2 linked regions of the Homo sapiens genome follow. The protein of the gene in region 2 interacts with the protein of the main gene of each other region in a biochemical or structural test. Each region holds a gene or a part of one and is shown on either strand. Other genes may lie near its edges.

What was found.
Region 1: the proteins of MYT1L (region 2) and TGFBR1 form a complex in vitro, tested with the Homo sapiens proteins (one study listed by BioGRID).

What each region holds. Positions count from the first base shown.
Region 1 is NC_000009.12:99,131,187-99,146,236, forward strand, and holds part of TGFBR1 (TGF-beta receptor type-1 isoform 1 precursor), read left to right. Parts: intron 1-1,310; coding exon of another isoform or gene 1,311-1,322; coding exon 1,323-1,553; intron 1,554-6,672; coding exon 6,673-6,903; intron 6,904-11,349; coding exon 11,350-11,517; intron 11,518-13,545; coding exon 13,546-13,702; intron 13,703-14,310; exon of another isoform or gene 14,311-14,426; intron 14,427-15,050. UniProt on the Homo sapiens protein: Transmembrane serine/threonine kinase forming with the TGF-beta type II serine/threonine kinase receptor, TGFBR2, the non-promiscuous receptor for the TGF-beta cytokines TGFB1, TGFB2 and TGFB3.
Region 2 is NC_000002.12:2,326,381-2,344,162, forward strand, and holds the start of MYT1L (myelin transcription factor 1-like protein), read right to left. Parts: upstream 4,896-17,782; 5' UTR 4,587-4,895; intron 729-4,586; exon of another isoform or gene 1-728. UniProt on the Homo sapiens protein: Transcription factor that plays a key role in neuronal differentiation by specifically repressing expression of non-neuronal genes during neuron differentiation.

The sequences.
Region 1 (15,050 bases), on a different chromosome or scaffold from region 2:
AAACATTGGTTACCTGTAAAAGGTGAAAAAAAAAAACAGGTTCAGATTTTCTGCTTAAATATCAAAGGGCAAATGGAACATTTTTACGATCACCTAAAATTCTTGAAATAGGCCAAGATTTTTCATATACAAAGGCAACAGCCTTCTTGCCACAACTAAGTTCAGTGTACAAGGGTGCATGGACTCTTCCTGAAAGAAATTACTAGAAATAGGATTCTGTATGATAAGAGATTAATCTACTGAAGATCTTAAGAATGGGAAAGATGTGATATGAAAGAAATGGTGGTAAGCAGTAAACCAGTAAGACTCAGGATGAATGTCAAAATAATTGTAATTTTCTGAAACAACCAGAAAATCTTAATTATTAATAGAAGTTACAAGAAAATGATCTGGACTTAAAAGTCCAGGAGGTTAAGATAGTATAAAAAGTATATATATGCAAACTCTGTTAAAAAAAAAAAGTAAAAGATATGTTCTGCCTTTAAAAAATTGGTGGACCTATTGGCCGGGCATGGCTCATGCCTGTAATCCCAGCACTTTGGGAAGCCAAGGTAGGTGGATCACTTGAGGTTAGGGGTTCGAGACCAGCCTGAGCAACATGGTGAAACCCCGTCTCTATTAAGATACAAAAATTAGCCAGGTGTGGTGGCACATGCCTGTAATCCCAGCTACTTGGGAGGCTCAGGCAGGAGAATCGCTTGAACCCGGGAGGCGGAGGTTGCAGTGAGCCAACATCATACCACTGTACTCCAGCCTGGGCAACAAGAGTGAAAATCCATCTCAAAAAAAAAAAAAATTGGTGGAGAGATATATACTGAAATGTGAGTTGTTTAGAAGTGATGAAGATGTATGTGGTTTTTTTTTTCGCTTGTTTTGATATTTTGTTGTTTTTTTTGTTGTTGTTTTTCTTGCTATGAGCATGTACTGGCCTTGGAACAAGAAGACAAGCCAAACATTAAAAAAAATATGATTTTTAAGGAGATGTTAATAGGTATTGTTACAGGTTATTGGTATTAGTGACCTGATGTGATAAGTGGGGAAGGTCCTATGATATTGGCGGCAGTTGGCCTTGTAATGATGGCTGAAGAATACAGGAGTAAGTGGGTGCTGACAGAGCTGGTGTGCATAAAAGGAGGCCTAGTGGGAGAAGACTGATTCACTTGTTCTGGGTTTGAGCCCTGTAAACTGCTGTAATGAGGCTCTTTGGCTAAGTGGTGGCAGTGGCCAGCTGCAGGAATTGTGTAGGATTGGGAAAATGGGGGTTGCCACCTACAGTGTTTTTGTCGTTGTTGATGTTTATTTCACTCGAGGCCCTTTTTCAGTAAAGTCATCACCTGGCCTTGGTCCTGTGGAACTGGCAGCTGTCATTGCTGGACCAGTGTGCTTCGTCTGCATCTCACTCATGTTGATGGTCTATATCTGCCACAACCGCACTGTCATTCACCATCGAGTGCCAAATGAAGAGGACCCTTCATTAGATCGCCCTTTTATTTCAGAGGGTACTACGTTGAAAGACTTAATTTATGATATGACAACGTCAGGTTCTGGCTCAGGTAACATAATTGTTTCTCCTTTTTCCTAAGACATCTTTTTAAAATTAAGCGATACTTATTTTATTAGTTTTCTAATAAGCCAACTTGCTAGAATGTGAGATAGTATAAATAATATTGCAGGTTTGAACCTAATAAAAATCTTTAAGCTTGATGTATATATGACTGTGGCTGGTTTAAAATAGATTGGAACTTAACTTTAACTGTTAAAGCGAATCAATAAGTCAGCTCCATGGTGGTATAAATTTCAAAGCGTTCTCACTTGTATAATCTAATTTGCTTTTCATCACTGTGAGGTAGAAAGGATAAGAACAATTATTCTCATATAGATGAAGCTGAAGGTCAAAGATATTCACATGATCTGCAGCTAACCCATTCTATTCAGGATTGTTTAGCAGCTTGATGTTTACATTTGAAAACAGGCATGACAGAAATGTATTCAGAATTGTGAAGGTTATTTACTTTTTAAACATTATATGAAATTGTCTTTCGTATAGGCCTGGTTTTTTAAAATTAAACTAATGAACTCTTATGTCATTTTCTCACTTGAGAAAAATGTCTAACCACCTTCTTATTTAATGTAGTTTTGGCCCCTAATGACGTTTTCTTTTCTCAGTTCTATTTGTTGATATTTGTGGCATCAGAAGTAGATGAGCTAATTGTCAGAGTCATCCCAAGGTGGATTTTGGCATAGCAGTGCTTCATGTTTAAACTGAAAGGGGGTTATCTTTTACTTTTTCTTGCATGTGGTTTGGAAAAATATTAAGAGAGGAACACTCCTATCCCCTGTGTTTTTAGAATTTGACACTTGGTGAAGAATAAATAGATCTAGGTTTCAAGGCAAGCTTTGTCATTGATTGGCTGTATAACCTTGGTTAGAACATGTTTCCTCTTTGGGCTTCTGTTTCCTCATCAAAAATATGGAACCCATACTGTTGATAAAAACACTTCAAGTGGTTTGTTAAGACTTTTAAATGAGATGTACTATCCTTTGAAAAGTATGAGTCATCTTCAAATAAGGGCTAAATTCATGAATAAAGTGAAAATTTGTAAAGCGTATATAATGAAAATTTCACTAATTTTGGTGAAAGCCCATCTCTATTAAAAATGCAAAAAAATTAGCCGGGCGTAGTGGCATGCGCCTGTAGTCCCAGCTACTCGGGAGGCCGAGACAGGAGAATCACCTGAACCTGGGGGGTGGAGGTTGCAGTTAGCTGAGATCGCACCACTGCACTCCAGCCTGGGAAACAGACTCCATCTAAAAAAAAAAAAAAAAAAAAATTTTCACTAATTTTATAATTGAGTGATATTAAAGGAATGTTAAAGCAGAAGTTGTGACTGGGTAAGAATATAATTCTGAAGCATAAAATCACATCTAATGTTGCAGAAAGCTCATATAATGACAAATGTCTATTTATTTTAAGGAAATGAATATATATTGGTATGTATGCATATCCATTCATTTAAGAATGAAGAAACTGATTTTATTACCTGAATTATTCTTCTATAGAATTTGGCCATATGTATTCAATAAGAGAGCTCTCTCCTTGACTACTAGGACACACACAGGCTCGCACTGGAGCTCACGTCCCAGAAGGCAAGCTTAGGGATTCCTGAAACAGTTGTGCAAGGAAGACAATGAGAGTTTGGACTTAGATGAAGCAGTCTTAGTACTGAAGGTGTGATAGTCTTTAGGCAGGCCTGGTGGACAGAGGTTATTTTAGAGCTTTCCTGGGACTTCCCATTTATTCTCAGTTCAGATCTTCAAAAAGATTTTGCTCATTCTGGAAGTCATCCTGCTCAAAACTGTGATAATCAAGGACCAGAGTCACAGAAAATCAGGATGGCTACAGATATTTGGAATTAATCCCTCAAACCTGTTCTCTTGTTTCTAAACTTATACTCCGGAAAGACACAGCACTCATGCCACTTGCCACAGTGGAATAAGCCCACCTAACTGATTAAAGGAATTGGTGGGTGGGTGGCAGTTGATTACTGGATAAGAATATCTTCATTAACCTTTTAAGATATAAACATGAGAAACAATGGAATAATTCTGTTTCCATTATATATATATATATATATATATATATATATATATATATATATATATATATTTCTAGATCCATGAGGGACCATAGCTCTCTGTTCTCTGAAAGCTTCTCTCCCTCCTTTGATGCCTTACCCTGCAAAAACTTGTCTGCATTGCTTGCTAGCTCTGTGGCTTTGGGCAGTTAACCAATGTCTCATGCTTGAGTTATTTCATCTTTAAAATGAAAGTGATGGATTCTGTGCACATCATTGGATTGTTGTGAGTTCAAGCAAGACAAAATGTTTGCATGAAAGCACTTGGTAAATTGTAGAGTTATGTCCAAATGACAAGTGTTACTCTTATTGAAAACATACTTGGAGGAAAAATCTAACATACAGTATCAGTTGACCACATTGTACAAAACTTAGTTTAAGGCCTCCTTTGCCTGTCATAGTTCATTGTGTACTGAATTCCCTCCAAACCTATCCAGGCAGAAGCCATCTTCTGGTGAATAATAGCAGAAAATGCCATCTGTTTCCCTTCTATTCATTATAAATCCTTAATGCCACCTTAGGCATGAGACTAGTGCCTGTGAATAAGTAAACTGTGTGTTTGTAATACTCTGTTTTTAGTTCTTTCATTAATTGAGGAAAAGGTATAAGCATTTCACATTCTGAATTCATATGTTTATTACTTAGTACCGTGACCATAATTAAGGAAAGGCCCTGTCTCTACCTCTAAAGACTGTGCTTTTAACTTGGGAACTTCAGGGAATACAATGAAGAGCTGGGTTCTGGCAGCTGTACGCCAAGTGTGTGAGTGTGCACATGTGCATATGTGCCAGCTTTTGTAAGTGAGTCTTCTAGGCCAGTGTTTGTTATGGCGTGTGCAGCTTATGAGCTCTTGTAATATATGCATGTTGTTCGGGTCTTATTTCCTGTTCACTGCATGTAAAGCTGTGGAGTCCCTGTTTCCCTTTTGAAGTTTTCTCTCAAACAGTTCTAAAGGTACAGAAGAGTAGAGCAGAGAATATAGAGATCTAAATTAGGCCTATTCAGTTTTGTCTTTAGAAGAAAATTGTTACTTTTTTTTTTTTTTTTTTTGGAGACGGAGTTTCACTCTGTTGCCCAGGCTGGAGTGCAGTGGTGGGATCTCAGCTCTCTGCAGCCTTCACCTCCCGGGTTCAAGCAATTCTCCTGCCTCAGCCTCCTGAGTAGCTGGGATTACAGGTGTGCACCACCATGCCCAGCTAATTTTTGTATATTTATTAGAGACCAGGTTTCACCATGTTGGCCAGGCTGATCTTGAACTCCTGATCTCTAGTGATCCAACCACGTCGGCCTCCTAAAGTGCTGGGATTAGAGGTGTGAGTCACTGTGCCTGGCCAATTGTTAACTTTTTAAAAATGCTCAACTATTCATGTGAAGTAATCCAATATAGATAATACAGTGGATCAAGATTTGCTTTTTAATTTTAATTGACATCTAGAATCCAGTGATAAAGGGGAAGACAAAACCTTTCCTCGTCCTGTTGGCCTTTCTTGACCATACCATTTACACAAGTCCTGAACCTGTCAGGTGTTTTCAGAATTTGTGTTTGTGATTCCTTTTTCTTTTTTATTACTTGTCTTTGCAATTTCCAGATTAGTCTCCTGAAATTAACTCTTAAGTGTACTTTTAAGTCTGTGGTGTGGCCCTCTACAAGGCTTTCATAAAATGTAATAAATTAGTATCTACACTAAACAACATAATTAGAATTGATTATACATAGTGCGAAAGAGCTCTATGATTTAAATAAGGATTTCTGACAGATCTGTTTCTAACTAGCAGCCTCCTTATAAACACAAACAGTTATTTATAGTTATACTGCTAACTACTTTACAGGAGGTGGGGAGGGTAGAGCAAGAGGAAGAAAGGACCCGTTTGAGAAACTTAAGAAGAAGAGCTTCTGATCGCTTTAAAGATTTAACGTTTGGATTTATAAGCATTTCACATCAGGGAACCAAAGAGAGCAGATAATTTCATTTACTGTCATTGGGTTAATTTGATCTAGTAAGCAGCTTTGAGTATAGATTATAAATGACACCAATTTATATGTACATAGATTGTATAAATAAGATATGAGTGAGGAACATGATGTACACTGGCATTTTCTTTGTTAGTGTCAATGTAATTTAAAATGACACTTACCGGATGGTGGATAGGATATTAAGTGATGGTCTCACATATAGTGCCACTTAAATGTTGCAGGTAAGTTAGTAAACCCTTTTAAATGAAGTAAGTATGGCAATACTTAAAAATACATATTTTGGAGAAAGCCAAGTTCCATTAGTGGAAAAACAGTGCTCCATTACCAAGGTAAGTTACTTAGCCTTGTTCTTCAAGATACTAGTGTTGTCTATGTAGCCAGTTGTCAGCAAGTAAATTGCTTTCCTTGAAATAGTTTCTGTGGTGATTTTTACTGACTTATCAAAAAGCCAGAATTTACTTCTGTGTTTCTGCGTTCACATCCTTTTTTCCTCCCATCAGTGAAACTGTTACGAGATTCATCTTTCTAAAATAAGATTTTAAAATTATCTTGCTTCCAGCCATGGCCCTTTTTCTCAGAAATCTTTAAAGGTTCCTCTTTTACCTAAAGCTCTTCATTGGTTATTTTGAGCTTGGTATTCAGTACTCTTCATCTTCTGGTGACAGCTTACTTTCTCTTTTCACTGCTTTGCCACATATATCCTCTCTCTGATTGCCCAAGCTGCTTCCCTAAAAATGTGTCATTCATTTCCCTCTACCTTTGCCTGCACATTCTTCCTGCCTAACCACCGTACTTAAGGGATAGTCAAAATTCAACTTACTTTTACAAAGCCTACCTTGACCCTCTAGCAGGAGTTTCTGGATTCTTTTATTATATTTATTATCTTATTTTCCTTTTTTAATTAGTTATTTTATTGCAAATATAATATCTCCCCAGTGAGATAAATTCCTAAAGGGATAGCTTAAAGTATCAGTTTTCTGGGTCACTCATTAGTGCCTATCATGATGTTTGAAACATGTAATATTGTTGATTGTGTTGAGTACTATTTATTTTTACCTTTAGGTTTACCATTGCTTGTTCAGAGAACAATTGCGAGAACTATTGTGTTACAAGAAAGCATTGGCAAAGGTCGATTTGGAGAAGTTTGGAGAGGAAAGTGGCGGGGAGAAGAAGTTGCTGTTAAGATATTCTCCTCTAGAGAAGAACGTTCGTGGTTCCGTGAGGCAGAGATTTATCAAACTGTAATGTTACGTCATGAAAACATCCTGGGATTTATAGCAGCAGACAATAAAGGTCTGTAACATTTGCTTTTCCTTATGTTATATATAACAAGATCTCTTTAAGTCTTTACAGATATGGTGACTAACCATCATCAAAGTAGATGAGACATAGATGTCTCTCATGTAGATTAGACCCATTAAGTCGAATACAATATATTAGTAACTTTTAGAACTAGGAACTTCTTCAAGATTTTCTTGACTCTTGATAGCATTCCTAAAATCTCTTAATGTTTTATAAAATATAAAAGAGCTATTTTAAAAAGCCATGTACTTTGTTGGTTTAGTTTAGGGCAGTTAGTTATTGAGAGTACTCATGATATAGAAAAGATATATAAACTTGCTCAAAATTTTGAGAATAGGGCTCAGATAGCTGTTTCCTTTTAATCTCTTCCTGACCAGTAGGATGTTTCAATATGGACTATTGACCTTATTAATGGGGAGAGTAAAAATAACTTGTCAGTGTTCTGAGTTGCCAAGGGCTAAATAGATGAATCTTCTGGCAAACTCAAAGAGATAAATTGTTTCTTCAACCACCCTGGTAACTGTACGGACACTTTTCTGCCTATCATGCTGGTGCCTGAGGCCCAGTGTCAGGTCAGATGCTGAAGAAGGAAGGAAGCCTGTCAGCAGGGAGTCAGAATGAGTGGGGACTGCAAGCAGTGACCTTAGACTGTGCTGCTGCCACTTTCTTAGCTTCCGTTAATACCTTTATGCCCATGATTCCTACTTTTTTTTTTTTTGAGATGGAATCTCGCTCTGTAGCCAGGCTGGAGTACAGTGGTGCAATCTCGGCTCACTGCAGCTTCTGCCTCCTGGGTTCAAGTGGTTCTCCTGCCTCAGCTTCTCGAGTAGCTGGGACTACAGGCGTGCACCACCATGCCCAGCTAATGTTTGTATTTTTAGTAGAGATGGGGTTTCACCATGTTGGCCAGGTTGGCCTCCATCTCTTGACCTCGTGATCCACCCACCTCACCCTCCCAAAGTGCTGGGATTACAGGCATGAGCCACTGTGCCCAGCCCCCACGATTCCTATTTTTACTGCCTCTGTCAGAGACTTGTGTTTCAGCTCCACTCTTGTCATCCCTACCCCTGAATCAAATGTATTTCCCAGCTTTCCTATTTAAAAAAAAAAAAAAATGCTGTCATTATCTCTTAGCTTGGCCAGACCTGTAGTCATCTTTTTCCTTCTCCCACCTTCCATTTACTTCAGCAATATTTATTTATTCAAATATTAACAGTGTTTAACCTCAGTTGGTAATTATGGGTGATTTTTATTATTTTTCTTTTAGCTTCTCTGGGTTTTCAAATTTATTTACAAGCATGTACTGCTTTTTTTTGTTATTGACTTTTATTTGTAGAAAATTTCCAATATGTAGAAAAGCAGAGTAGTTACAGTGATCCCTCATCGTCCAGCTTCAACAGTTGTCAGGTCACTGCCAATCATAATTGATGTCTGATCCCACCTACTCTGCCCTAACTGTGTTATTTGAAGCTGGTCCCAGACAATATGTTTTCATCTGTAAACACTTATAAAATGTAATTTGTATCTTCAAATGATGAGGAAATGTTTTTATGAAACAACCACACTACCATTGTCAGTTTTTTAAATGTTATCAAATATCCAGTTAGGTTCAATTCTATAATTGTCTCCTATTAAAAAAATTATTTATTCAAATTATGATTCTAAGTCCACAAGTTATATTTAGTTGATATTTCTCTTATGTGTCTTAAAATTTAGGTCCCCCCTTCATCTTTTTTCTCCTCTCGCAGCTTATTTGTTGAAGAAATTGGATTGTTTATCCTGAAGGGCCTATCACATTCTGGATTTTGCTGATTGCATTTCCATAGTGTCTCTTAACTTGTTCTTCTATCTTTTCTGAAAACTGGTAGTTAGATTTAGAAGCTAAACCTAATTGGAGTTTTATTGGTTTTCTCAAAATACATACTAAGGATATTATATACATCCTATTGCATCATATGTGGAGGTGTATAGTGTTTGATTAAGACGGGGCAGTGAGGTATATGATGAATGTAGGTAGCGATTATCAGTGGCACCTGACAATGTAATACCTCTTAAGTTAAAAACAAAACAGGCCGGGCACAGTGGCTCACGCCTGTAATCCCAGCACTTTGGGAAGCCAAGGTGGGTGGATCACGAGGTCAAGAGTTCAAGACCAGCCTGGCTGGCCAAGATGATGAAACCCCATCTCTACTAAAAATACAAAAAAATTAGCCAGGCATGATGGCAGGTGCCTATAATCCCAGCTACTTGGGAAGCTAAGGCAGAGAATTGCTTGAACCTGGGAGGTGGAGGTTGCAGTCAGAGCTGAGATCGCACCACTGCACTCCAGCCTGGGCGACACAGGGAGACTCTGTCTCAAAAAAAAAACAACAACAAAACAAAACAAAACAAAAAATAGTAATCAGTCTGACCAAATCCTTAGTTCTCATTTTCGTTTCTGCCTTTATCACCATTTATTTCCTCCCCCAACTCTTAAAACAACCTTTTCTTTATTTACTGTGTTTGATGACCCTAGACTTTCCTTGTTCCTTCTTACTTCTTCATAGTTGTCTTTGTTTTCTCAACTCTTACTCTTCTCACTGGTTCATATGAAGGTACTGATTTTATAAGTGGTAATTTCTTCCTTAAGAACATAGCCACATTCATGGTTTCAAACTCTACCATGTTGGCAACTCTCAAATCTCCATTTGAAAGCTTAAACCTCACCCAGGGTCTGGATTTTGTCACATTCCAAGTTACAAACACAGCAGCACAAAATGTTGGTGAGTCTGTGCCCTGAACTTCTAACCAGGCTGATGCTGTCATCTGGTGGTCACCATGGGAACTAGCTGACCCTACTGGCTCTTCCCTACTCCCCTTCTTTCTTCTTTGTCAGGGGTTAATGTACTTTCTCTGAGCCTAGCCCCTCCACCTCAGTTCCTTTATCTTCTCCTGATTTAGTTAATTCCACCCCCGGCAGCCCTTTATATTTATGGCCCCTTACATATAACCTTCCTTCTATCTTGTCCATAACCTGTGGTTTCCCTTTCTTCCATCTGCCTGTCTTCCACTTTGTTTCTTGTATTTGTGAGCTTTTCAAAATTCAGTAATGGTTAAGAGGCATGCAAATAAGCTAGTGATGTGCCTATATCAAGGAAAAGCAAGGGTGCGAGTTTGGTCAGAATCAGTTTATAAAGTTCATGAAGAACAAATTAATACTAAGTCCTTTTAAATGTACCCAGAAATCTCCTCCAGAATCTTCTGAAAAGTTTCTATTCCTTTCTTAATCTCTTCTAATCAGAGTTGGTTTTCTTCTTCAACCAAATACCTTCAAAATAGAAGCTGTTTCATGTCAATATGGATTTTTTCTTTTGGTTTACAACCAGCAGGGAAAGAAAGAGCACAGTTTATGTACTTCTTACCTAAAGAATCTAGCATTCCGTTTTTTAAATCTTAACAGTCTTACAAAGTAAGACTTTATTCTTGTATAAAAGGAGAAACAGGCTCCTTGTCAGTAACAGGCAGGCCGTGGATTCCAACCAGGTTAGAATGACTCTAAGCGTCCATCTTTTACTGGATTGTGCTGTCTCCTAATGTTGTAATGCTTTTTTTCTTCATGGCTTAATTAAGCATGTGGTTTTCCAGCTACTTCTAGGTTAAATTAGATTGTCGTGGACCAGTCTAGCTTAGGAGCCTAGCTAGTGTCTTTACCATTATTCCTATGAGAAAACATGTTTTAAACTCGTGTTTTGGCTTACAGAGGAAATTTTGGAACCCACGTTCCTCGTTGTTTGAGTTTAGTCCCAGCTTTTCCAGTTTTGCTCCTGACATTTCAGTTCCTATTTCAGCTTCCCCATGTGTTAGAGGTATCACTATTTCTGTTTTTCTAAGCTAGCAACCTTGGAATCATAATCATCTTGTCTTGCGTCTTTGTGAACTGTGTACACAATCTGTCACTAAAGCTTGTCATTTCTTGTTGAAACTCACTTTCAGTTTTGTCCCATACTCTTCCATTCCCACTGTGGCCACACTGGTCTCCGGAGACTTCTCACCTCCTTGCTTCCCTCTCTGTTCCTTCCTTTTTTTTAACCTTCTCTCCTTCCAGGAACAGCCACTGAGCACCCAACCCGACCCAGAGATTTTTCTAGGCACTTAAGAGTGCCAGCTCTGATACCAATTATCTGTGAAGACTCAAAAAAGTCACCATCTTTGTCTCTTAAATGGGATTAATTATACTTGCCTTATCTCAAGAAGAGGGGCTTACTCTGAGGAACTAAAGGATGTGTACATAAAAGTATAAAACAAACAATGTAGAAGAAAATGTGAAGGAAATACAGACTTAAGGTGGCATTATATTGCAGTGTGTGACTCAGGATTGAGAGTAAAAAGTAATAACCATTGAACAAATAAATCATAAATGGTCTGCAGCCCAACCGAAATGTTAATTCTGTTTTACAGACAATGGTACTTGGACTCAGCTCTGGTTGGTGTCAGATTATCATGAGCATGGATCCCTTTTTGATTACTTAAACAGATACACAGTTACTGTGGAAGGAATGATAAAACTTGCTCTGTCCACGGCGAGCGGTCTTGCCCATCTTCACATGGAGATTGTTGGTACCCAAGGTAATTCTATAAGCAGTTCTATTATTTAAGCTTTAAATTTTCATGAATAATGTCTATGAAAATAGAAGGTGGAGGCTGGGCCTGGTGGCTCATGCCTATAATCCCAGCACTTTGGGAGGCTGAGGTGGGCAGATCGCCCGATCTCAGGAGTTCATGGCCAGCCTGGGCAACATGACAAAACCGCATCTCTACCAACATACAAAAAATTAGTCGGGCATGGTGGCATGCACCTGTAGTCCCAGCTACTCAGGGGGCTGAGGTAGGAGGATTACCTGAGCCTGGGAGGTCGAAGCTGCAGTGAGCAGACATCATGCCACTGCACTCCCAGCTGAGTAATAGAGAGAGACCCTGTCTCAGAAAAAAAAACAAAAACAAAAACAGTAGGTGGCCTAACTGGAGATATTTAAAACAAATTTTTTAGATGAGAACATTTTATCTTTCAGTTCAAAATTTCAGGTAGAGCTAGGAATCTGGAAATTTGTTTAGAGATTCTCTAGTCGTTGTAACAAAACTGTGATTTTTTTTGAGTTCTTAAAAGTAGCATTCAATCTTATGATTTTTGAGGATCTCAGTTTCAGAATTCAGGTCCAACTGAATATATTTTTATGTGTAGTATCAAATGAAATGTGAAAGTGCTTTGTAAACATCAACATGCTAGGTAACTGTTATCTGGCCATCTAATAATTATATTTGACCTTGAGATAAGGAGACTGCATGAGATAGTTTTACAGTTGAAAAATTAAATACTAAGTTTTAGTTATGACATTTGTATGCTGTAGTTTTTGTGCATGTGGGATTTCAGATGCCAGTATATCTCTCTGCTCTAGCAGTTGTCCACTTGCAACCCAATGGCTCCCCCACTCCCCACTTTACATACAGCATAAGTGCTAGTTCACATCTTAGCTCCATCTTTGTAGTTATTATTATTATTGATTGTAACAGTTTTATTGAGTTATAATTCACATCATAAAGTTCACCCACTTAAAGTGTAAAATTCAGTGGTTTTTAGAATACTCAGAGTTGTACAGCCAGCAAACACTACAGTCAATTTTAGAATATCTTCACTCCAAAGAGAAACCCTGTAGCCACTAGCAGTCACTCCCCTTTCCTCCCAAACTCCTTAGCCCTAGGCAACAACTGCTCCTTTTTGTCTGTAGATTTGCTTATTCTGCACATTTTATATAAATGAATCATACAATATGTGGTCTTTTGTGACTGGCTTCTTTCACTTAGCATGTTTTCAAGGTTCATTTATGTTGTAGCACGTATGAGTACTTCAGTCATTTTGATGGCTAAGTAATACTTCAGTGTATGGATATGGCATATGTCATATATCCGTTCGTTGATGGACATTTGGTTTGTTTCTTTTGGCCATTGTAGCTAATGCTGCAGTGAACATTTGTGTACAAGTTGTATGTAGTTTCATGTTTTCAGTTATCTTGGGTATATACCTAGGAGTTGAATTACTGTATCATATGATAACTCTATTTAATGGTTTGAAGAACTGCCATACTATTTTCTTAAAGTGCCTGAACCATTTTACATTCCTGCCAGCAGTGTATGAAGGTTCCAGGTTTTCCACATTATAATTATTATTTTTTAATAACATTTTCTAGTGGTTAGCATCAAAGATAATATACTTAATACTGAGTACATTGCAGTTGATAGGGAAGTGATGTTCTACATGCTTGGTTCCTGGGCTGCTGGAATATCAGTCTATGGCTAAGTTTCTTAAAAAGAATTCATAAGGCACCAACAGATAAACTGATAACTTTTTTTTTGCCCCAGTCTTTGAGTTGTTCATCTTTTAAAGCATGTTATTGTCCACATTTTCTTTAAAGAAATATAAATTCAGTGACTTTTGGTGTAGTGATTCACTTGAGTTTAATAATGCCGTAAGTATTGTAGGTCATGTGGGCTGAAATGCTTTGATAATTTGGGTTGGGAGAAGAGACTTTTGAACCTAAAGATGTGAGTTGTGATTGGTATTACCTTTTAAGCAGTCATGTTTAATTTTTGATTCTTTAGGAAAGCCAGCCATTGCTCATAGAGATTTGAAATCAAAGAATATCTTGGTAAAGAAGAATGGAACTTGCTGTATTGCAGACTTAGGACTGGCAGTAAGACATGATTCAGCCACAGATACCATTGATATTGCTCCAAACCACAGAGTGGGAACAAAAAGGTATACTTTTGAACAACTATATTTAATATCTTCTGAAATCACCTTTTTTCCCTTCTCTTTCATATATACATATCATTGCTGAAACTCAGCTTAAACTTGCACTTTATTAGATTGCCAACAGGTAAGAAGATCTCATGGTCTTGCCTGCTCTGAAGCCAGAGTTACCTGACTTAAAAAGATGCCTGCTGATGAAAGGTTGCCCTTCCAGAAAATATCATTAGGCATGTTAATTATAATAACAGTAGTAACTAACGTTTATAGGGCACCTACTATGTGCCAATCGTCTAATAGGTCTTTTACGTATATTACCTCATTTAATCCCTTCTCAAATACTGTGCAGTAGCTAGCCCTGCTATTTTCATATTTCAGTTCCTAAAAATATGCCTTTCTTGCTTTCTTAGAACTTTTGCACATGCTGTCTCCTGGAGCATACTTTACCCTACTGTTTCTCAGCCTCATACCCACCTTTCCCGTAGGAAGTTTTTTCTAGTCCTCAAAAATCTTAGGAGTCCCTGCCAGGGACTGTCATAGCACACTGAACTGGGACCGTTGAGGCACTTATGCGTTATGTTGTAACTGTTTATTTATTTGCCTATATATTCTATTAGGTGCAAGCTGCTTGAGAGCAGCCTTGTATTCCCAGCATCCATCACAGTGCCTAATACATGGTAGATCCTCAGTAGATATTTGTTGAGTCCATGAGTCTTCAAAAGAACTTAATTAGGTAGGTGTTATTACCCTTTAATTCACAGATGAGGAAACCACCTTGAGGAGGTTAAATAATATGGCCAGCTTCATGTGGATGATAAGCCGAAGAGCTGAGATTTGAACCTGGGCATTTCTGACCCAAACCCCTTATCACAAGCTGTCACAGCATTTTTTCAAACTACTGTCTTGGCCTTGGAGACAGCTGGAGAGCCAGCAGCATTAGTCTATTCAAATTGCATGTATAATTTTGAGATTTCTGGATTCCCTGGGGACTCTCAATTTTCCCATCCAAGTACTAAGCAGGCCCGACCCTGCTTAGCTTCCAAGATCAGACGAGATCGGGCGTGTTTAGGGTGGTATGGCCGTAGATGACTCTCAATTCTCAACCAGCTAAGGGGTCCTTGTCAGTGGTTGCTGTAGGTCTCTGTGGGTCCTGACCCATAATTTTGGTAGGTTTTTGAAGCTTCAGTATGAGGACTGGCATTCTTTTGTATCTATTATTTTTTTCCCTGGAGTATATTCGTGCCCTTCCTTTCATCCTCAGTGAGAAGACTTCTAAATTAAAATGCATGGTTTCTACCTAGTACGTGTATAGGTGGTGTACATTAGGACACCTTTAACAGTCACAATTGTTATGTAT
Region 2 (17,782 bases):
GCTCTTCCCTGATGTGTTGGGACCAGACTTACTGGTTACTATAGAGGCTGCAATTCCCTTCCCATCGAGCCCTGCTAGACACCACTGCAGTCTGAAAGCAAGGAAAGCTTTAAGAGAATGTCCTGTACCATTCCATCTTCTCACAACACAATACTCCTTACAGTAAGACTAAAATATTCCCCCCCGCCAACTTTTCCAATAATCACCACGTGGGGAGCAGAGATTATTTTAAAAGAGGTACATGGTAGGAAAATTTTCCTAGCAGAACAGCCTAATACAGCAATGCTTATCACTCTTTCTCTATCTAATAAATAAGCATTCATGCATTCTTTCTAGTTTTATAACACCTGGCTTACATTTTCTCTGCCATCTCTGATTACTTCTACAGATACCCTGAGGACTCATTATGATGTCAAAGCCAAAAACACTTCCATTGTAGAAACATGCATAGAAAAATCACTGTGTATGCTTGAACAATGCAGGTGTGAAAGAAACACAGAGAGAAGAGAGGGTGGCAAAACAGACAAACAGGGACCAAGTTAAAGAGAGAGGGGGCAGAAGAGAGAGAAAGGAAAGTGGAGAGAAAGAGAGAGAAGAGACAAGACACAAAGATATTACAAACAGAACCACATTGCATTGAAATAGCCCACTGATGGAAAAAATGGATAGCTGTTGCCTTTAAATAATCTAATATCAGAAAAAATCATGCAATAAAATACTATAAAAGTAGAATATTTGTATTATTTCATATGAGTTATGGTCACTATAGGCAATATTTTAAATATTGGGGTGGTATGTCAATTTAAAATATCTTTTTCATACCAGCAACCATGATATGTAGATATGACACTGCCCCCAACCACACACACACAAACACAAACCTACATCTATTTACTTCTTCAAGTTTGTGGTATCTTTTGTCTTCAGTTTTGTTTGGAAGAAATGCAGATCAATGTCAGGTGTTGTGTTGTGGTACAGAATACAGTATGATGAAACTTAGCTTGGTGAAAAATATGTTATTTGCAAGTTTTTGTTCAAGTTTATCCTCAGTTACTCCTTTCTAAAGAATACTACACAACTTTTCAAATAAAAAAGAAGATATTCAAAAAAAGAACTCTTAAAAACTTGAAATAGGAAAATGCATAACATCATTGCGCTCAAATTACGCTATGGAGTAATTAGATTATAAAAATTTACCAAAACTGTAGATCTCTCTTTCTGAGTCTACCATTCATTTGCCTCCTGAACAGAGTTCTGGTGAGACTTTGCATCAAGGTAGACTTCCTGGCAAAGGACAACATGCATTGGAAACACTGGTTATTGATTGAAAATTATAGCCCTGGTCTAAAAGGGACACCCAGCCAAACCAAACTGTAAGTGCAAAGCAGAGTGGTCATTATCAAAGAGCATCTGACTAGTCCCTCTAATTCCACAGAGGAGTTTTTTTTAATATAAAATATTTAAGGGTAAATAAACCTTTAAGTTGTTTGAAGTTAAAATGTATCCACTAAAATATATAACAAGTAAACAAAGTCTTTCAGATTGTATATTATGTATTTCTAAAATAATGTCTCTCCCTCAAATTAAATTGGCTTACAGGTAGAGTTGGAAATCTAGTTTATGCATGTGACTTTGAAAACATTATTTACTTGACAAAATTAATTTTTCACAGAGAAGTAATTGGCTTTTAAAAATTATAAATGTAAAGTATTTATAAAAGCAGCTGAACAAATAATCAGATTATTAACTCAATTTTTTAATTTTAAGTATAATTGTAACAAATAGAAAAACTTTACAAATCTTTGAAATTGCATAATCACTTATTTCTTTTCCCTAATCTATTAAACATTGACACAGAAAGCAGACAGAAAACATCAGACAGTGAAATAATTGGGTATATTCAAGAGTAAGGTACAAAATAGAAACATTTTCAAGAGAGTAAAAAATAAATAAATAAATTAGGTGAAAAACATAACAGGGACAGTGAAAACAGCATATTAAAGAAGTCTCATTCTCTGAAACTATCCACATAGTCCTAAGGTCATGCTTTGACAGCTTTTATAACCCCGAAGAAGACTAGGTACTCATATTCCTTTAATAATTTTTGTACACCACTCATATGTGGTCACAAATCATTGGGCCTTTACCTTGATCTCAGCTTCTAACACAAATTTGTGAAATTGGCATAAGTTCTGCTGTTGGATGCAAGTTTAACTCAAGAGAAGTTGAAATTTGTGTGTCATGCATACTTTCTACCTTACTGTGACACCAGATAGTCCTGGTGCATCTTTTCAAAGATGAATTTTATTAATAATTACATGTATTTGGATAAAATTTTCCAGTTGAAAAGTAATAATGTTTACAATTTTCCAACCCACAACTATACATATATACAAGTAATTTTTAACATATTGATATGTTTGAATATTTGGAAATAGAGTAAAATATGTGTATAATGGCAGATGGAAAGTCTTTACTAAATAAAAATGTTCAAGTATAGATATCTTTGCTGCCACCATCTTCAAAACATCCAAATGTGACCATGAAGGCTTCTCCTACTTCTACCTCAACTAGCACAATCATTAAGGTGATGAAAGTGAGCCATTTTCACATTGCCAATAAACTAGGAGGAAGTCAGTCACTGTTGAATGCAATCGCTATCAGCTGCGGACAGCTCCTGGTGCTGAAAGGGAAGGCAGAGAAGCCTGCTCACAATAGCTCACTCCACCAGCCTTTGAAAAATCACAGCAAAACTGAATGAGGTGGCAAGTGCTCAGCCTGAATAGCACTGTCTACAGAACAATGGCAGCCAACTCTAAATCCTACTATAATCACATTAATGAGATTAATCAGTGAATTAGCAGCAGTCAAATGTCAGGGAGGCAAGGAAGAATCCAACCAAGATTGGTAATTAACTTTTTGTGGGTGGGGGTGGGGAGGAGAGAAAAATCAACTGTGCTATCTCATAGGTTTTTTTAGATGTTGATAATTTTGATTCACGAATCTGAAGACTATATGTACAGATCAAAAGACAACAACATAATCCTTCATATTATAATATAGATCCAGATCTCATATTACTGATTCTTATAGTCCTCTGAGAAAGCTGATGTCACTTTAAATAATCTTCATAATCTATCAGAATTTTATTGTTTTAAATTCTTTAAATGCACAATTAATATTTAAAATAAACTTATTTCTCTGAAAATCAAGCTAAAATATAAAGAAATATGGCTGATTAAAAGCAGAAGGATTATATAACAACTGTTATTGTTTATGAAAAGTGTATGATAGTATGGTAAGAGTTTTCAAAGTGCAATCAAGTAAAGTACCATCACACACACACATCAGTAGTGGTCTATGTTAGTTAATAAAGAAAATTTATCACTCAAGTATAACTTTAAGGAGACTTTTAAGCAATTAACTTACTGCATTTGAGGTGATAGAATCATACATGTTCTTTTAGGTCAATCAGAAAAAACAAACTTCCTTTTTTTCTGGAATGTTTCTCTTAGTAGCATTTATAACTTACAATCAACACTTTGGATTCAAAGTTCTTGAGAGGTGAAAACTTATAGGAATGCAATGCTGTTTTTTTTTTTGAAAAGGAATATTTTATAAAACTCTTTTCTTTTAAAAATAATTACATTTTTATCTGTATGGGAGACATGACTTTATTATTTTTAAAGCTACATGACACTAAATGAAGATGAACAATTAGAAAGACCCTCATATGCCAGTAAGGGTGGTTTTGGGATGCTTTGGTCTATGACGTTAATTTTGTTTAGTAGAAAATATAAACATTTGAACAAAAAGGCTCTTATATAAAATAGTTTTACTCTAAGTAACTTAGAAATTATTTAGCTTATATAGCTTTGATGGTACAAGAAATTGTCATGGTTAATACTAAATTCAAAATCTGTTCTCTATATTTTATATAGCTAACTTTCATATAAATATTTACATATATATTTTTGCTTTATTCAGATCTATCTTAAAACTAAAGTGTAGAGTTTAATCTTTTAGTTTATTAATTTAGGTGTTACAAAAAGACATATTTCTGTTATAAATAACATTTTCTTTCATTATTATGAACTTCAAACATTTAAGTTAAATTTAAAAATCTTTATTTGAGTTTCTCCACTTAAACAATATAAATCAACTTTCTTCTTACCATCAGGTAAATTCATCCAAAATAGCTAACATTTTAATTGCCTTTGCATAAAATGATGTGCTTCATTTGTAATGTAAAGTAATCCAGTAAAGTCTCTGGGAAGTTTTTGTTTCAGTATCCTCTTATCCTCCAAACACCATACATGCACCCCGTTTTGTTTTTGTTTCTTTTTTTCTTAATAAACAACATCACAGTTAAGTCATGCAACCTAATACCCATTTTAGTTTAAAGACAGATTTTTTTGTGGATTACAAAGCCTCCAGTCCAGGAACATTTCAGCTACCAGCCATGCTGTAAAAATAACTTTAAAAAGGAGCAGACAATGGAATAGCAGCCTCAGCCCTTGAGCTACGGTAAAACACATCCTGCTCACTAAGTTCCCCGAAAAATTAACCTAACGAACATCACGTACCTCACAATGACCACAACCGCTCACAAGCGAAAGACAAGTTCAATTTTGGTAACTGTGCTGGCTCAAAATACACAGACAGGGAAGAAAACCCTGTTCCACCACAAGTTTGAAAGGATGATGAGACACATGCATGCCACCAAGACGCAGAAAAGGTGGCTTTTTGTCTTCAGTGAGTATGGATATCATAACCCATAGTCCAGGGAATGAAAAAATTAAAATGCACCCACCAACAATGAGCAAAAAACCCGGGGTGCTTCAACAAGACTGCAGGGAAAAGCTCTCTCACTGTTTAGTGTGCAGTAGCTTAGGGAAAAAAAAAATGTCGCCCGGGCAGGAATGACAAATGCAGCGCGATAGGCTCGCAGGCCTCAGGGATCTGTTTGACTTCCACACACCCCCATGCACACGCTCCCACTCATCCTCTCCTAGGCTTTTTTTTTTTTCCACATTTTTTTTTCACAAGCTCCAAATCCCCGGCATATGACCTTCTGTTAAATAGATAAAAAAAAAAATTGCTTATCAGTCATGCAAATGAGGCTGAATTCATTTTCCACAACAGATGGCCTCATAGATAATGATGATGGAAGAGAGAAAATTGAATGTCTCTCACAAGGTGGCCATGGCAACCGAGAGCAGAATAATATCAATAATAAACTCACTGCATAATAAGGTTGTCAGTCCTACAAATCAAAGTCTCCAGCTAAATCAGGTATACCACCCCAGCTAGTTACCAGGTAAATAGTACACACACACACACACACACACACACACACACACACTTCCACAGAGTGGCTTGAAATCTTTCATGGTCACTGTAAAATGTGTACGTGTGTGTGTCTGTTGGTGGCAAGAAGGGGTTGGGGGAGAGAATAGTTGGATAATGAAATGACAATGTGACTTTTTTCTTTTCCTTTCCTTTCATTATGTTTTCTGCAATAGACTCGGTTTCATGCAGGACCTTCTAACTAGCCATATTGAAATCGGGATGCGGTGCTGAAGGCTTTCTCTCCTCCCTCTGCCTCCGCGCTCTCGCTCTGATGTGCTGCATTGATGCAATAGCAGCTCGCCTCAGGCTTCCACCTTGGCTCCCAGGGGGACATCCTGCAAAATGAATCAGCAGCCATCCTGAGCAGGCTGATTAAAATGAAAATGGCAAGGCACATGTCTGGGCGGAACTGGAGCTCAGCTTTGCTGCTTGTCTGGCAAGCATGCTCAATATAGCTCTTGCTAATAATGGCTTACTGCCTTTCATTTTTTAAAAAGGTATCACCCTTTTCCCCCTTCACTGACTGGTGTTGTCTGTGTGTGTGTGTGTGGTGTGTGTGTGTGTGTGCACGTATGTGTGCGTGCATGTCGCGGGGGGAAACGAGAATGGATGGTTCTATTCTTCTAATTTTCTGCTGCTCACATGCAGACTGCCTGCCTGACAGCACCATTATTTTAACACTGAACTTACTTCAGCTTTTCTTTTGGGACAGGGTGGGGGGGCGGTTGATAAGTCTTGGGGCAGAAGGGCTAGTTTTAAAATCAAGCTGCCTAAAAGGCCCAGACAAGATTTTTACACTCCAGATTCAATAATTTCTAACCAAATCTGAAGCAACAGACCTCGAGAGAACTCCGATGCTCTGCTTCACAGGCTCACAGTTGGACATGCTGAAACACAGCCTATGAAGAAACCTATTTCTGTTTCGAGCATTTGCAACCAGCCTGTTACTGTATCCTAGATATTATGCAACACAGAGAATTAAAACAGAGAAAGCTACTAGCTAATAAAATAATCGAACACAATTGAAAAAATAAATCTTGGATATTTTGTTGTTTAAAATTCTCAGGCATAGCTTCAAGATTGCCCTCAAATAAGCTTTACTTTGCAGCACCTCTGCCGAGTATTCCAGGGTTTTTCAAGGCATTCTGGAAATTAGACCATTATCACCTCTCAAAAAAATGGTTGAAAAATTAGAACGAATAATTTTTCTAAACTCATTTTACTCTACTTCTCCTATACATCTTATTCTATGTTATAAACAGTCTTTAAATTTTGCTAAATTGTCAGTTTTGCTTTCCTTTGGTAACAGATGCTTGATTTTTGTATAAAACTATCTATCTACTTATTTTTGTCTTTGTAATTCCTGTTTCTGAGACGTGATTTTTTTTTCTTCTGAGCTCTAGCCCTGTTGCTGCAGTGTGAATCAGAAATCAATAGCGCTGCCCTAATGGAGACTCCACTCGGCACGCGGCAAGGCAGCTGCAGTCTCCTCTCTCTCTTTCTCTCTCTCTCTTGCACACACACACACACACACACACACGGAACTAATGACGTCTGTGCAGCTTTTTCAGCTGATTGGGCACCACATCGGATGTTCTGTGGAGCAAAGAATAGGAGTCATTTACAGTCGGCGGAAAAAAAATGGGAGCATATATCCTTCTGTGTGTAAGACACTGATCCTGAGCTCCCCAGGCAAGCAGCATGTGGGTAAGGACGGTTCTTCGTGTTGTGGTCACCACGGGGTAAAGAGCGCCTCCAAAATGATTATAGAACTGGAACTGCAGTACAGTGGGAGTATTTGTCCATTTTGTAAAGGACAAAGCATTCCTCTAAAAAAAAAGTGAGCACAATAAAATTCCCACGCAAATGCGAGTGTTTAGGTCAAATCGTGACCTCCTGGGTATTATTTAGGCGTTTACATATACATTATATTATTACTTCCAAGGAATTCCAAATGTACTTAAAAAAATAAAGTTCAAATTAAATGAATATATATGTATGTACACACACATATATACACACATATTCATGTAATCATTCCCTATGAGTTTATCATAGTTGTGTTAATAATAAATTCTTAGTTAAAATTCACCCCCACATACCTTACCTTACATTAAGAAGAAAGAAATCTGTAAATAATACTGACACAATATTTTAAATCACAGATTTATACATGTATATGTTTTTCTTACACATTTGTGCATGTCTATGAAAACAGAATGTATATTTGATATGGGGCACCTGCACACACACACGCAGGCACAATATTCTTTCAACAGCTTTGGTTACCTTAAGCTGTAGGTGTAACTCACTGCAATGACAGGCTGCTGTGTTGATAAGCATAGTATCTAATGTTTTACCCTTAAGGTAAGGCATCCCTGGACCCAGCAGCATTAAAGAACACGTCTTCCCTTACCACACTGTCACTGCATTTCATTCAACCTCATCGTGTTGACAACAACTGCCCCAGCCTGAATCGGGCTCCAGTGAAGCATTTGTATTCTTTCCACCCATTCTCTGCATGACTTTTAGAGCTGAGATACCAGCCCTCAAATGGCTCAAGAGAAGAGGAAAAATGAATGAATCATGAAGCCACAGAGCCACAGCAGAGCAACACTGCAGTCTGCATTTTGCAGTTACATTGTAGCTCACTTGATACAGTATGATTTCTTCAAAAATGATATCGAGTACTCTGCAGTAAGGTACCATAAAATCCTTTATGATGTAGAAGAACTGGGGAATACTCAAATGACCATTTAGATTAAAAATCTGTAGTTTGCGATTAAACCGTATAACCAAATGTTTTGTCTCTAAGTATCTGTCACCTGCCTCCTTAAATTATTTCTAATATATTTTGTACTTCATGTATTAGTTTATTCCACATGTTAAAGCCCTTGGTATTAGGAAATACATATGTCATTAATTTTGTTTATTTATGTATGTATTTATTTATTTGTAAGAGAAAAGAAATTGGAACATATTGCCACTTCTAATGGGTATGTCCTCCAATTTAGTACAAAGAAAAAAAGCCCATATAATTTTTTGTGTGGAAATACACACAAGTTATAACCTAGGATGTATTTCCAACTGTAGGATACATATGCTGATCACTTTAACAAACGATAGATTGATCTCTCATAGTATAGAAAGTTCAATCTCTTTCCTTTCTGTTCTCTGGACTCTGGTCTCATCATGAGACCAGAAACAAAAAGGAGCCGTGACGTTTCTTCAGGTGCCATGTTGCACACCAGGTGAGGAGCCGGGAACTAGACCTTCATGGAAAGCATGACGATGACTTCATGACCTTTTCTTCAGAATTATGTCTGCACCAGTGATGGAGAGCTGTGACATCTAAAGGGAGTCTGAGATTAATTTAGGTCTGGAGCAAACAGCATAGAATTGCTATAGTTGGGTAGTAAATTGGTAAAACCTGGAATCCAGATATTACTATATCAGAGTGTACACTATGCAAAATCAGGCACTAACATAGCCCTCCGCCACTGTATTGGGGAACAACTTTCCAAGTTAGCTATATATCAGAGAGGGGGTGGTTTATTAATTTATCAATGATAAGGATGGGGAACCCATTTTCATTACAGGGAATTAGCTTCAACTAATCAAAACATCTATAGAGTGACTCAATAGCAAATAGATAAAAGAAATAAGGTGTTGGTGGTTAATTTGCTAAATAGAATAATGAGAAAGAAATTTAGGAGACATATCATGAAGAAGAGCTGAGGTATCAAGAATAGTTGTGGTCAGATAGAATTTGGTTGTGTAATCTCGGTGAAATGACTGGACCACAAGGGGTAGACCATGAACCTCAGAGCTCATGCGTTATTTTTGCAGCTATCCCAGGCTGACCATTCTATTCAGTATAAACCCATATTAGGGGAGTCTGGAGCAGGTAGAGTTGAAAACATCTGTATTCAGATCACTTGGCCTGATTTTATAGAACTGGTTATTTATTGGCAAAATATATAGATATAAATATGAAATATAATTCTGAGATCTAAAAGAGCATTGAGAATTTAAGATGTAGGTAAGGGGTGCCCAACCCCAGTCCATGTCTCTTAGGGACTGGGCCGCACCACAGGAGGTGAATGGTGGGGAAGTGAGCATTATTGCCTGAGCTCCGACAAGTCAGTGGCGACATTAGACTCTCATGAGAGTGTGATCCCTATAGTGAACTGTGTGTGTGAGGGATCTAGGTTGTGTGCTCCTTATGAAAATCTAATGCCTGATGATCTGAGGTGAAACACCTCCCCACCCCGACACGTTCTGTGGAAAAATTGTCTTCCATGAATGAAACCAGTCCCTGATGCCAAAAAGGTTGGGTACTGCTGGTTTAGATTATTATAACCAGCAAACTAAGATAATCTATAGAAGGTATTTATTCTACTCAAAGTCTATAATTTTATAAAATGTCTGCAATTTTGTGAAAGTAAATACCTTTCATTTCACCCTCAGTGGCCCAATAAATTCAAAAATACGCATATTGCAACAAAACTTTCCACATTACCTGCACACCCTTGAGACTCAGTCTCTGAACTATTTTGCATCTGGGGTTTTTATATCGCATTTCATTTCTTTGTGCTATCAGGTTAGTATCTGCAATGATTCAAGCTATTTGAAGAAAGGGACTTATGCCTTTTAGCTTATGAGTACATAGGAATAGTGCTGGTCTAAATCAGGTTCTCAATAAGAATATTTTTATTTATTTTTATAATTAGCTTATGGGTCTCATCCCTGAAGTTAAAAAAAAAAGCCACTTACTTTATTCAAAATTATATTTTTCTTCACTGTACAGAAAACAGTAATAATTATCATGCTCATTTAGAAGAGTTTTGGTGCTGAAAATCATTCAGAAAAGAGAATCTAGAAAAAAACATGGAGGCAGAGAAGACGATGGGGTTCAACAAAAGGAGAAAGATGTACAGCCCGGTCCACACTGTAGTAATTGTTTCACTCTTTCTGAATTTCCAGCATTGGAACCTCCTTCCTACATCCCAACCCTCCCCAATATTTGAGCCTCCTTAGTAGGTAGGGACTGCCTCTCACTCTAGATACTAAAATAACAAGCTATTTATTTTTCCAACTTCTCTTTCAGCAAAGACATGGACACATGGCCTACGATTCACCATTATGACATGCCCAATTTAGATTTTGAATTGTGTGTTGATCCCACAGAAAACCATATTCCTTAAAGATTCTCCTATGGCAATGGTGGTTGTGCAGTATAATTGAGAAAGAGTGGCAGTGTGTAGGGTTTATGGTGGTTGTAGCAGCATCCTGAGAAAACCAGCTGTGCTATATACTTTTAGATATTATCACTAATGTGCTAATCTCCAAGTTTGAGATTTCAACCATCCTAGTAGATCTGACTTGTGTGCTTAATTCAGTCAGAATATTTACTTGTAACTAAGTACACGAAATGAGGCACATGTGTTTACTAAGAATGCAGACAACTCAATCTCTGAGAAACAGCAGTTTTGTTATCTTTCCTGGTAGAAAACATCTCATAAGACAGGAATTTGTCAGCTCATGATACATGGTAGAAAACCAATTAAATGGCCAGCCCTGACCGTATGGAATAATTTGCTGAAATAGATGGGTGTTCTACAAAGTTCCTACTTGATTTACGGAACTGAAGAAATTTGGTATCTGTGCACAGGTGTCGGACCTGAGTCCTACCATAAAGATTTGAGGATCCTCACCCAATCTCGGAAATAAGTTGGCTTCTAGACTCAGGATATCTAAAATGAAGACATGCCTTTAAAGAATGATCTTGCAGTAACATCGTGAACATAAATGTCCTTTCCCAGATGGCCCTACAGCCGTTTGTCAGAGTAATTCTGTATTTGAAAACAGAAATGCCCCTAACTCATGGGCTTCATTGGACTTTGGCTTGCCTCAACTTCTGGGAACCCAGAATACCAAGTGGTCCACTTGAGAGAGATGTACAGGGAGTGAGGCTGGTGATGCATGCTCAGTGGGGCCTTAAACCCTCCCTTCATTTCCCCAAAATTCCTATGGGCAGAGATGAAAACCATATATTCAATAAGCTGGGTGTAGTGGTGCCCACATGTAGTCCTAGCTACTCAGGAAGCTGAGATAGGTGTATCACTGGAGCCCAAGAGTTCAAGGCTGCAGGGAGCTATGATCATGTCACTGCACTCCAGACACAGTGACATACAATGATAGACTGGATTAAGAAAACGTGGCACATATACACCATGGAATACTATGCAGCCATAAAAAATGATGAGTTCATGTCCTTTGTAGGGACATGGATGAAGCTGGAAACCATCATTCTCAGAAAACTATCGCAAGGACAAAAAACCAAACACCGCATGTTCTCACTCATAGGTGGGAATTGAACAATGAGAACACATGGACACAGGAAGGGGAACATCACACACCGGGGCTTGTTGTGGGGTGGGGGGAGGGAGGAGGGATAGCATTAGGAGATATACCTAATGTTAAATGATGAGTTAATGGGTACAGCACAACAACATGGCACATGTATACATATGTAACAAACCTGCACGTTGTGCACATGTACCCTAAAACTTACAGTATAATAATAAAAAAAAGATATTTTCAATAGCCAGCAGAATCCCCTCCCTGGATCCCTAATAAATGGACTATCAAAATAGTAAATCGAAATAATAATTTTATTATTATTATACTTTAAGTTTTAGGGTACATGTGCACAACGTGCAGGTTTGTTACATATGTAACAAGTACTGTGACATTGCTGGGGAAATGATAGCTGTAAAGTTGCCAGTGGTGATAACGGAAGGCATGCTGGTCTTTCATTCTTTGGTGGGGCTAGCACAGAAGACGGGATTCTGGAGAACCGTGGTGAGCTGATAGAGGACGAAGTTCCAAATGTAGCTTCTCTACTCCAGCAAATCCTCATAGCTCCAACCACAAGGAAATGGATGTTATCCCAATGAAAGGATTAGACCAAGATTAGTATTTCTTCCTATTTTAGGAACAACAACACATCTTCACTGTCCTATCCTAGGTTATATTAATTCTTTATCTTTGCAGAAAATACAATTTCTCTCTGCCCAGAGGACATAAGGGTGGCCCCACTACAGCAATGATAGAACACTGCAAGAACCTGGAGAACAGGGGCCAGTGTTCACGCTACATTTCTTGACAAAATAGAGACCTGCTAGAGATCAGAAAGTGAATTCAACAAAAATATAGGGGTCTGCACCTTATAAAGTTACTGGAATCTGATTGTTTGGGGAATGGCCAGGTTATGTTTCTAAACAGAAAGGCAAGAAGCGTTGCCTTCCACTCCTGGTTTCCTCTTTTTGGAGGCTCAGGCTACTGTGGGAGCAGGTTGCATAGGGGTTAGGTGTTCAGTAAAGGGATTGACCCAGATTATCAAAGGAATACAGGGGTCGCTACACGGGGAGGGCCCCGCTCTAACTTCAGGGCCATGAACTGAAAGCCCCTCATTTTTTCATCTTAAATATGGCATCTTGGTGGACTAATGACTAACCTGAAAGCAAAAAGAAGATTCTTGGGGCATCTTTCAATAATGCCAGGTTCAGTCATAACAGCCAAAGGAAGACTAGAGCTTCCAACACTGAGAACTCATCTCTCTCACTGCAGACGCCATCCTACAAGGTGAGCACCTCTGACCAGCTGAGGAGCCGGCTGGATGCAGAGAGCCTGGGACAGAGCCAGGAAGATGCTCATGCTCACCTTGTAGACAAAAGGCTTAGAATATTTAACTGCATTTATCTTCCTTCCTGGGTCATGTACATCTTTATATAACTGAATTAATTTTCTGCTTTTCTCTCTTTCCCCTGTCATTTTAAGGTGATAGTGGCCTATAGTATGAAGCATGTTGACATGGAATTGTAGCAGAATAGAGAAGAAGTGGGCACAAGCTAGGAATCCTGGACTGGGAGCTGAGCACAGAGAATCAAGCCATTCCTTTCTAAGAACTGGGGGAATGATCTCGTTCAGGAGAGGATTGAGTTAAGATGCATAAGTGCTTTTTAGGGATGTGTGCTGATGTGGGGCAGCATGGGATGAAAATAGCAGACACTTACTCCATGTTGATGCTTCACAGAGGAAGGTCACACCCTGAGAGCCTGGGCAGGTGGAGAAGGCTTCTCCGGTGAGTGCAAGAATGGAGGAGGCGCTGGAGCTGTTCTGAGGGAACCCCCTCAGCGGCCTGGACATTAGAAATGGCCTCAGCCCTCTGTCCTCATCTTCCACTCCTGAGCATTCGGCAAGATGCCAGTATCTTGTTAATAAATGGCCTTTTCTGCTGAAAGGAGCCTGTTGGTTTCCTTTGTTTATATCTCAGAGCTTTCACTGATACAACACACAGACACAGAATACAAAGGCACACACACACACAGATACCTAAACCCTGGGTCTTTCAAGGTAAGAGCCCAAGCTCCGGCACAGTTTCTCCTTTTCTACCTCTCATCATGGATCTGCTGCCACCCTTCACCCCAAACCCTGGCCTGTTTGCTTTCTGAGAAGTGGTCTTGTTCATTCATTACCATCTTCTGAGCCTTTGTGTGGAGTGGCCCTGCTCCGCACAAATCCGATGAGTTCTGGCTCCAAAACTTGTTTCTCTCTCAGCTGCAAATGCAAAATCCTCTAGACTCCAGAAACAAAATAAATTGCACCACAGTCCAAATCCTATCAGAAATGAAACAAGTAAGTAGGCTAAAAAACCCCACAAACTTTATGGCATAGTTAGTTACCAACCCTTTTGTGATATCAAGCTGGAAGAAACTTTGCAAGGAGAAATATCTTAACAATGTTTCTTTGATGTGTGGTCTTATTCATTTGTAATAAAGGACAATTCCTGTTTTTCTTTTAATACACTACACAGCAGGTGTTCTCTTTCCCAATTATGGACTGAAAGGCCTTTGTCTTCTATTTCATCTTATTCTTGTGATAGATGTAGGAGCCATGGGTGTCTCCTGAGAGCTTGTTGAAAACGCAGCATCTTGGGCCCCTCTCGGACCCACTGACGTAGGATCTGCCTTTAACCTAACTCTTCTGTGAACTGTACGCACAGTAAAGTTTGAGAAACACTGGACTGGATCAGTGCCTTCCAAAAGATATATACTTTAAGCCTCAGGTTTAATTAAATTTATTCTAATAGCTACATATTTTGAAACAGAAACAGGTGAAATAAGCTTTGATAATTCATTTTACTTAATACACATAGAATATTGTTAATCAGCATCCAATTTATTAATGAGATATTTTACTTTTTTTTTGAGAAGGAGTTTTGCTCTTGTTGCCCAGGCTGGAGTGCACTGGCACAATTTCTGCTCACCGCAACCCCCGCCTCCTGGGTTCAAGTGATTCTCCTGCCTCAGCCTCCTTAGTAGCTGGGATTACGGGCATGCACCACCATGCCCGGCTAATTTTGTATTTTGAGTAGAGATGGGGTTTCTCCATGTTGGCCAGGCTGGTCTTGAACTCCTGACTTCAGGTGATCCGCCCGCCTCAGCCTCCCAACGTGCTGGGATTACAGGCGTGAGCCATGGTGCCCAGCCTTTTTTTTTGAGATGGAGTCTCACTCTGTTGCCCAGGCTGGAGTGCAATGGCGCAATCTTGGCTCACCACAACCTCCACTTCCCAGGTTCAAGTGATTCTCCTGCCTCGGCCACCTGAGTAGCTGGGATTACAGGCACGTGCCAACATGCCACGCTAAGTTTTGTATTTTTAGTAGAGACGGGGTTTCACTATGTTGGCCAGGCTGGTCTGAGATCCTGACCTCGTGATCTGCCTGCCTTGGCCTCCCAAAGCATTGGGATTACAGGTGTGAGCCACTGTGCCTGGCCTATTTTACATTTTTAAAAACAATCTGGTGTGTGTTCTGCACTTAAACCCCATCAGAATTTGTACCAGCAGCGTTTCAAGGGTTCAATTGCCACACTTCACTGGTGACTACCATATTGAATTCTCGGATAGAAACTGCCAGATTTCTCCTCTAGTTTCACACTGGGATAGGTCTGCTGGACTTCCCCCTGTCTACAGAAACCATAGAAATACCCTATGGGGCAATGTGAAATACTGTCGATAACCAAAGATCCAGCACATTTTCACACATAGACATAAATATTAATAAATATTCATTGACTGACTGAATACATGAATGTTTGCTCAACACTGGGACACGTGCTTGGACTCTTGTCCCCGCCCTTAAGAATGTCTTTGTGGATCCTTCCCTTCTGCCTGCTTCAATTGTCATCTGGTTGTTACTGTATAATCTTGTAACTTGTGTTCTACTTAGATTCCTTTAGTTGTATGTAACAAAAAGAAAGGCATGGGATATTCTGCAGCTTTGGAGTTTGGGAACTCAGTCAATGCTGTTTATTCTACATCTGCTCTTCCTGCCTCACATTTCCCTGGATCTCCGGGGTTGGCCTGTCTGTCCTATAACTGCCACAGGCCCTTCCTAGGAAGCCTGTCCATTCCCCAGGGCTCTGGACCTGTGTTTCTGTTTGACTTGCTCTGCTATTCATTCCCTAACCTTTCTGAAAGTCCAGTGTGGACAACAACATATATTGTATTGGCTTTTAGATCTTTTACCAATGTAAATTTCAGAGGCCTCTCCTGACAACATTCTGTGATTGATGGCAAGTTTTATACCAGGGTGCCTGAGACATGCTTCTTCTGCACTATTTCTGAATGTATGCATTCATGAGCTGTGCTGTTTTTCCTTGAACCTACTTTCACCCTCATCTGAAAAGAATTTCAAAGGCTGGAGTTGAATTCCCATGTTATTTTATGGAGGCCATGAGAAGTGGTGTTTGGAACCTCTCTCTTTAAATTTATCTTAAATAGTTGCCTAATGCAGACAATCTACTTTAGTTTGTAGAATTGGAATCTCATTTTCCAAATTCACTTATAATAAAAACACAAGCAGATGTTAGAATTATAGGAAATTAGAAGTGAAAAGGCTACCTTAGAGATGATCTACGTTATAGTTTAGAAAACTGAAGTCTAGAAAGGTGGTGACTGGTCTGATATCATTGATGAGAGAAAAAGTGAGAGAGAGAGACAGAGAGAAAACAGAGATAGAGACAGAGGGAGACAGAGAGACAAAGAGAGATGAGACAGGCAGATAGAGACAGAAAGAGATCCTTTAAGCTACCACAGTCACTCACTCAGGATGGAGTACTGGCCTGCATGAATAAACCTGGTGGTTTGTCCAATAAATTATACTATCTTAAAGACATCTAAGAATGTTTGGTTAGCAGGAAATTAAAACTTCTTTTCTAGGCCACTAGAGCTCAAATTGGGACATTAACTCAAATTTGAATACGTGTATCTGCACGGTGGATTTCAAGCTAGGTCTCTTTGAATTTGCTGTGTTCCTTTAATCAGTTCTAAGTGACAGAGGGGCTTCACAAAATACCTTCCATACATTATCTGCATGGTGGATTTCAAGCTAGGTCTCATCGAATTTGCTGTGTTCCTTTAACCAGATCTAAGTGACAGAGGGGCTTCACAAAATACCTTCCATACATTATTTTACTTAATTTGAAAGTCAGAAGATATACTTATAAAGTAATATGAGTGATTTAAAAAATACTCAAACTGAAGACATTCAAAATACTCTTTCTCTTTCATGAGGATCATATTTATTCCAGAGCTTTATATTGTTTGAGACAAGGCTTAAGTTCTTCAAGATAAGTTTGGGATACCTTTAGGTTATCTGGCATATCTTATGTAATTTCTTCATTGCAGAAAAATCTTTATTCTTGGAAGTCGAATGTCTAGAAAGAGCCAAAATTGTTAAAATATCAATTCTAGTAAATAAAATAAATTCTCCATTTGTTAATACTGTTCAGACAAAAAAGTAAAATGTGTTTAAAAGGTAACAAGGCAAATTTTTAAATGTATGCCTTAAAATCTGGGTCCGAAAGATGGGTCTCAAATAAAAAACCTATGTTGGTCACAGCCTCAAAATCCCAGCCACGTGAAACCCTGATTAGAATCTGCTCCTGAGGCCTCCTGGCTTCTCTGGCACTTGACATTGTGAAGAACACCAAAGGCAGATTGAGCATATTCAATAATGTAAAAAGGAGTCAGATCTGAAAGTATCCAGCAAAGCCAACATGAAGGCAAAAACAAAATAACAGTTGTTCTAACCAGAGCGTGGGCTTTGTAATGGGTGGGGACTTAGACCCTAGGGTAGGTGAAGGGTCAACTTGCAGCATGACCTCCAGCAGGGGCTGAGCATCAAAACGGGAAGCGCAGAGAACCGTCAGGTCAATCCTTGTACTGCAAGACCCATTTTTCTTCAGTGGGGACACTTAGTAGGTCCTCAGCAGCAAATGCCTCCTCTCTACCACTCCTACTGAGGAGCACTGTGAGATCAGGAAGAGACAGACTGCAAAGGGAGAGAAGGGCCACAGAA